Linked DNA regions of Homo sapiens. The protein of the gene in region 1 purifies or fractionates together with the protein of each later gene. This does not show direct contact. Each region holds a gene or a part of one and is shown in the gene's direction. Other genes may lie near its edges.

The links.
Region 2: the proteins of PVRIG (region 1) and SUPT6H purify together in Homo sapiens (affinity purification with mass spectrometry; 3 studies listed by BioGRID and IntAct, with this or other methods). This does not show direct contact.

What each region holds. Positions count from the first base shown.
Region 1 is NC_000007.14:100,218,597-100,221,990, forward strand, and holds PVRIG (transmembrane protein PVRIG isoform 3 precursor), read left to right. Parts: upstream 1-1,374; coding exon 1,375-1,432; intron 1,433-1,517; coding exon 1,518-1,868; intron 1,869-1,950; coding exon 1,951-2,077; intron 2,078-2,163; coding exon 2,164-2,224; intron 2,225-2,331; coding exon 2,332-2,655; 3' UTR 2,656-2,894; downstream 2,895-3,394. Other genes in the region: STAG3 (cohesin subunit SA-3), read left to right, coding at 21-77. UniProt on the Homo sapiens protein: Cell surface receptor for NECTIN2. May act as a coinhibitory receptor that suppresses T-cell receptor-mediated signals. Following interaction with NECTIN2, inhibits T-cell proliferation. Competes with CD226 for NECTIN2-binding.
Region 2 is NC_000017.11:28,700,205-28,703,179, forward strand, and holds the end of SUPT6H (transcription elongation factor SPT6), read left to right. Parts: coding exon 1-46; intron 47-141; coding exon 142-308; intron 309-736; coding exon 737-924; intron 925-1,234; coding exon 1,235-1,421; 3' UTR 1,422-2,475; downstream 2,476-2,975.

The sequences.
Region 1 (3,394 bases):
AAGGGATTTTTCTTTTTCAGATTACTGAGAGTCTTCCGTTACTAGGTAAGTCACCGCATCCTTATAACTCCAGGTGACACTGACTGGGGTTTATGGGATGAAAGAGGAGTGTGTGCTTGGATGATGGGGTGTGATAGTGAAGGGGTGAAAGGTTTCTTCTCACACATAGACATCGTGAGGTCTTCCTTGAGCTCTTTAGAGCCTTCCCTCGGGATAGGATGAAATACTGAGATCCTAGAAAGGATTCACAAAACGTGTCACTCATCAGCGCAGATTCACCGATTCACCCCTAGATGTGTGTGGGATTTGGATGGCAGAGAGAAACAGGCACTGAAGATTTTTGGTCAGGACAGGGCAGAGAAATAAGAAGAGTTGAAAATTCACCAAAGGATAGATAAACCCAGGGCGTTTAGAGAAAACCTGTAGTGTGCAAAGGAGCCCAGAATCCTGGGGCAACTTGGAGGGAAATATACTTAATTTGATTCACTAAGTTAGGCCCAGTGAAGGGATTGGGTGGCATAGGTAGAAGCCGAAAAATAAAGTATCTTGTATTGCTGGAGTAGCCTCTGTTTCTGAGGTCACATCCAAACTTAGCGAGGCAGCTTAACCTGGTGAGAGACATGGGTTCAACTCCTGGCTTCTGCACTGCTAGGGCAGAGGACTGCTGTTTGCTGACACAATCTTGGTGCGTTGGAAGTGAAAGGGAAGAGGCACTGGTGGCTGTGCTTTGGGCCCGAGCAGCCAGAAGCCAGTTGCCATCACCTATGACGAGGAGACAGCGCCTGGGGCAGAGCCCAGTATGGGGTGCGTTCAGGGTAGATCAGGAGGTATGAGTGGGTAGTGGGCGAGCCAGGCTGGGGGTTGTGGGGGAGGCCTGCATTGCAGGTGTAAGCGTGGGACCCACATCAGATTGGTAGTGGGTCATGCATGCTGGGCTGGCTCTCAGGTCCTCCCTGCTGGCTTCCCACTCCCAGGGGCTTTCTCCTCCGATTCCTTAGCTGGGTGAGGGGCGGGACAGAGCCCTTTCTTAGGGAAGCCCGGCACCCCTTGCTGTCCAGGGAAGGGGAGTCCTTCTAGCCCCTGACAGCTTCTCTGCCCCTCCCCTGGCCTCCCCAGGCCTAGCCAGGGCTGGGTTCTCACCCACCTGTGCCGCCCTGCCTTGTTACCTGGAAGCACAGCCTTGGGGACTGAGCAGGCCCTCACTGTCACTTTAAGAAGGGAATCAGCCACTTTGTGCTCACCACCTCTGGGGAAGGTGTGAGAGGAGAGAAGGAAGTGGCTGTTTGGCTGCTGACAACATGAAGACTTCCTGCGATGAGAACAGAGGCACAGGTGCCGGCCCTGCAGCCCCCAGAACCTGGACTGGAGGGGGCCATGGGGCACCGGACCCTGGTCCTGCCCTGGGTGCTGCTGACCTTGTGTGTCACTGCGGGTGAGTGCCGGCACCAGAGAGGGGCAGGGGCTGCAGGGAGGGTGATGTAGGACAACAGCCCACCGACCTTGCTGCTGTTCCACAGGGACCCCGGAGGTGTGGGTTCAAGTTCGGATGGAGGCCACCGAGCTCTCGTCCTTCACCATCCGTTGTGGGTTCCTGGGGTCTGGCTCCATCTCCCTGGTGACTGTGAGCTGGGGGGGCCCCAACGGTGCTGGGGGGACCACGCTGGCTGTGTTGCACCCAGAACGTGGCATCCGGCAATGGGCCCCTGCTCGCCAGGCCCGCTGGGAAACCCAGAGCAGCATCTCTCTCATCCTGGAAGGCTCTGGGGCCAGCAGCCCCTGCGCCAACACCACCTTCTGCTGCAAGTTTGCGTCCTTCCCTGAGGGCTCCTGGGAGGCCTGTGGGAGCCTCCCGCCCAGCTCAGACCCAGGTGGGGCCGGGGCGAGGGGTCCAGGAGGGCAGGGAGGGGCTCGGGAACTGGCCACCCATCTGATTCTTGTCTCCGTGCCCAGGGCTCTCTGCCCCGCCGACTCCTGCCCCCATTCTGCGGGCAGACCTGGCCGGGATCTTGGGGGTCTCAGGAGTCCTCCTCTTTGGCTGTGTCTACCTCCTTCATCTGCTGCGCCGACATAAGCACCGGTGAGACCTGGTCCCTGTCCACGTCCCCCTGACACTGGGATGGCCACATGCCCTGCAGAGCTCTGACCATCCTTGCTCTCTCCCAGCCCTGCCCCTAGGCTCCAGCCGTCCCGCACCAGCCCCCAGGCACCGAGAGCACGAGCATGGGTGAGGAGGGGACCTGCTTTGGGGATGAGGTGACAGGGGCAGGGGCAGGGGGGCCAGGGCTGGGCCCAAGCTGTGCAGACTCACTTGACCCTCCTTCCCCCGCGCAGGCACCAAGCCAGGCCTCCCAGGCTGCTCTTCACGTCCCTTATGCCACTATCAACACCAGCTGCCGCCCAGCTACTTTGGACACAGCTCACCCCCATGGGGGGCCGTCCTGGTGGGCGTCACTCCCCACCCACGCTGCACACCGGCCCCAGGGCCCTGCCGCCTGGGCCTCCACACCCATCCCTGCACGTGGCAGCTTTGTCTCTGTTGAGAATGGACTCTACGCTCAGGCAGGGGAGAGGCCTCCTCACACTGGTCCCGGCCTCACTCTTTTCCCTGACCCTCGGGGGCCCAGGGCCATGGAAGGACCCTTAGGAGTTCGATGAGAGAGACCATGAGGCCACTGGGCTTTCCCCCTCCCAGGCCTCCTGGGTGTCACCCCCTTACTTTAATTCTTGGGCCTCCAATAAGTGTCCCATAGGTGTCTGGCCAGGCCCACCTGCTGCGGATGTGGTCTCTGTGTGTGCGTGTGTGGGCACAGGTGTGAGTGTGTGAGTGACAGTTACCCCATTTCAGTCATTTCCTGCTGCAACTAAGTCAGCAACACAGTTTCTCTGATGTCGGCCTCGGCTGTGCTTCTTCTTTGGGGGTGAAGAGAGTGGGGAGGCAGTCTCCACCCCTGGGAGGCAGAAGCCAGGTGAGAACCAGAGTGGGTTGGGGCCTCATTGCAGGGCTGGGGTTGGCCCAGGGAGAGGGCAGTGTCCCAATCTTAGAGATCTGTCCTGGCTTCTCAGAGTGGCAGGGGTGTTGGGGGAGCTTCCTGAGGGACACCTGTGGCTGCCTAGATAGGGCTGGGGGATCCCAGTGGGATGGTCTCTGCTCCAATCCCACCATGTTCTAGGACAACAGCAAGGGTTCCTGGGGCTTTGGCCTGAGAGAAGTCCCTGTGGTTTGACCTGGCTTCCCTCTGCTGGGCTCCCTGCTGTGGCCTGGGCTGGGGTCCTGATGCCCTCCTTCCACAGCTGGCGTTAGGCAGGGTGTGGAGAGTAGGGGGACTCACCTGAAATCTTCCCTCAATCACTTCCCCCGCCTCCTCTCGGGGAAGGCAGAGGCCTTCACAGACAT
Region 2 (2,975 bases), on another chromosome or scaffold:
ACACCTGCCTCTATCAATGCTACCCCAGCCAACATCAACCTTGCAGGTGAGGAGCTTGAGCCTGGGACTGGAGGTGGGAAGGATGGAGCTAAAGGGACTTTCACCTCTAACATGCCCCTCCCCACCTCTGTGTGCTTACAGATCTGACACGGGCTGTGAATGCCCTGCCTCAGAACATGACTTCACAGATGTTCAGTGCCATTGCTGCGGTGACAGGCCAAGGACAGAACCCTAATGCCACCCCAGCCCAGTGGGCCTCCAGCCAGTACGGCTATGGCGGCAGTGGAGGCGGCAGCAGTGCTTACCACGTATGTGGCTTGGGGAGGAAGCTCCCTGTGCAGGGTGGGGCCCATAGACTGCCCTCTCGCATTGCCCACAAGGGGCTTCACATGCACAGATGGGGCTGCCACGGCCTTGGTAACTGTCTCCAACAGATATTTCTTGTCCTTAGGCCCATTTGAAGGGGAAGAGGGTAAGAGAGGGCATAACCTTTCCACGGGCCTTTGGGATCTTTGGAACCCGCAAGCCACCAGAAAGTTGACATGGTCAGGACCAGTGGGCACCACTGTGTGCTCGGTGCTGACCTGCAGGCTTCCCACTGCTGGTCAGAAGCACATACTCAGTGGAAGATCATCTGGAAAGCTTTGCTGAGCCCACCCTTGCGCTTACCCAGAATTCACAGCAAGGCCAAACAAGCCCCACACCCATCCCTATTTAACTGTTCATGCCTCTCCAGGTATTCCCAACGCCAGCCCAGCAGCCAGTGGCCACACCACTAATGACCCCTAGCTACTCCTACACGACCCCAAGCCAGCCCATCACCACCCCTCAGTACCACCAGCTCCAGGCCAGCACCACCCCACAGTCGGCCCAGGCCCAGCCCCAGCCCTCTTCCAGCTCCCGGCAACGGCAGCAGCAGCCAAAGTAAGTATCTGGATGGTGGCACAGTGCAGGTCAGTGGTAGGGGCAGGTGTTGTCAAGAGGCCGAAAGGCTTAGCAGAGGCAGGTGCTCTGGATCCTCTGAGGGCCCTGACCACATGATATGCCAGGAACACTAGTTTCTGGGTGAAGACGGAAGAGGGCAGTATGGCAGCCAGCTGCTGCTGTATCTGCCTTATCCCAGTAGAGGGGCTGCTGCCCATAGGTATGAGGTTCCTTTCTGCAAGGGTACAGTGATTGGTGGGAAGACTTCCTTCTAGCAAAGTCCCAATCTCAACTTTTCTTCCCCTCCCAGGTCCAACAGCCATGCAGCCATCGACTGGGGAAAAATGGCGGAGCAGTGGCTGCAGGAAAAGGAGGCAGAACGGCGGAAACAGAAGCAGCGGCTGACACCTCGGCCCTCCCCCAGCCCCATGATCGAAAGCACCCCCATGTCCATTGCTGGCGATGCCACCCCACTCCTGGACGAGATGGATCGGTAGGGGGCCTGCTCCTCGGACTCTGGTTACCTCTGAGGCTGGGAAAGGCCTGGCTGCCCACTGCCTCCCTCCCTGCCCCTCCTTTTATGTCCATAAAGTGGCGTGAAGTGAGACGTTCTCTTTGGTGGTCAACCCGGATGGGTGACAGGCTGGATGGCCTTGTGAACTTGAGCTCAGTGTATGCTAGGCAACAATTCTCCCGCTCCAGACCCTCACCGACCACCTGTCCTGGGACCAGGCTGGGAGGGGAGTGTGGCAGGGAGGAGGAAGAGGAAGGTGAGAATGAGTAGAACAGTTTTGTATTCTACTCCCTACAAGCCATTTTGAACTTCTGCCCTCACCGGACTCTGGGCTGTGACTGGGGCACCAAACTCAGCACATGAGTCTCCCCTAGCTCTCGTGGGGAGAGGGATGCTATTTATTCAGTTTGGGGCAGGAGGGAGAGGAGGGAAAGTATTTCTGACCCTGATGCCAACAGCCGGGTGGCTGTCCAAGCAGGATTGCAGGGGACACAGGGAAGCACTGCCCAGCCCCTGCCTGGCTGCCCTTTCCCCCCTGCTGCTGCCACCGCTTCCTGCCTGTCATTTGAATAAACAGTGTTTCTATTGAGCTCTTGCCAAAGCCTCTCTCTCCAACTCTCCAGCTCTTTGAGGGGTGGCTTTCAAAGCAGTGTTTGGAGCTCCAAGGACTCCCCTGACTCCCTCTTCTGATCCATCAGAGGCAAAGATTCATAGACTAGAGGCAGCTTCTACATCAGACTGCCTGGGGCACATCCCTGCTCTACTTCCCAGCCGGGTGACCCTGTGCCAGTTCCTGCTGCCTTTCAGCTGGCTTTCTTACCTGTAACATGGAGATAGTGATACCTGCCTCATCAGCTGCTGTGAGGACCAAGGCAGCGTGTGCAAGCTCCTTGGCCCAACGCCTGGTACGTCGCAAATGTTACCCGGTATTATTACACCCACTCACTCACCCACAGCACAGCTGCCCCATCCGCCCATGCCTGCTGGTCTTCTCTGGCACCCTGGAGAAAGGCCACAAGTAAATCTGGATTTCTCAACTTGAGCCTCTGCCGTTCATCTCTTCCCTTTTCCCAGCTGGGCCTTGGTCTCTTGCAAGCTCTCAGCAGTAAGGTGTTCCTGCCCCAGGATGGGGCCCTGCTCACCTGCTCCCCTCCAACACACTGGCCCTGGCCCTTTGTCCCTGCCCCACTGCATTTTTTGTTCTGAACTCCTGCCATCCCTGTTTCTGCACAAGGGCTTCGTCTCACAGCTCTGTGAGTCAATGCTGGGAGAGTGGGGCCTCTGGCTCCCTTTCCTTTGCTTGGGGCTCAGCAGAGAAGTCAGAAAAGGCCACTGCTGCCCAGACGTGGCACACTCCCTCCCCTTGTTTTTCTTCATCAAGATCTGGGGGAAGGGGCCAGCTCTGCCAGGAACTCAAGTCAGCTCCCTTCAGCACAAAAGGGCTACAAGGGAGGAGCTAGACCACCAGCTGGGAAGGTCAGTCTCTGGTAGTACCACGAGCACCTTCTGCAGAGCCACTTAGAGGAGGGAAAGGCCA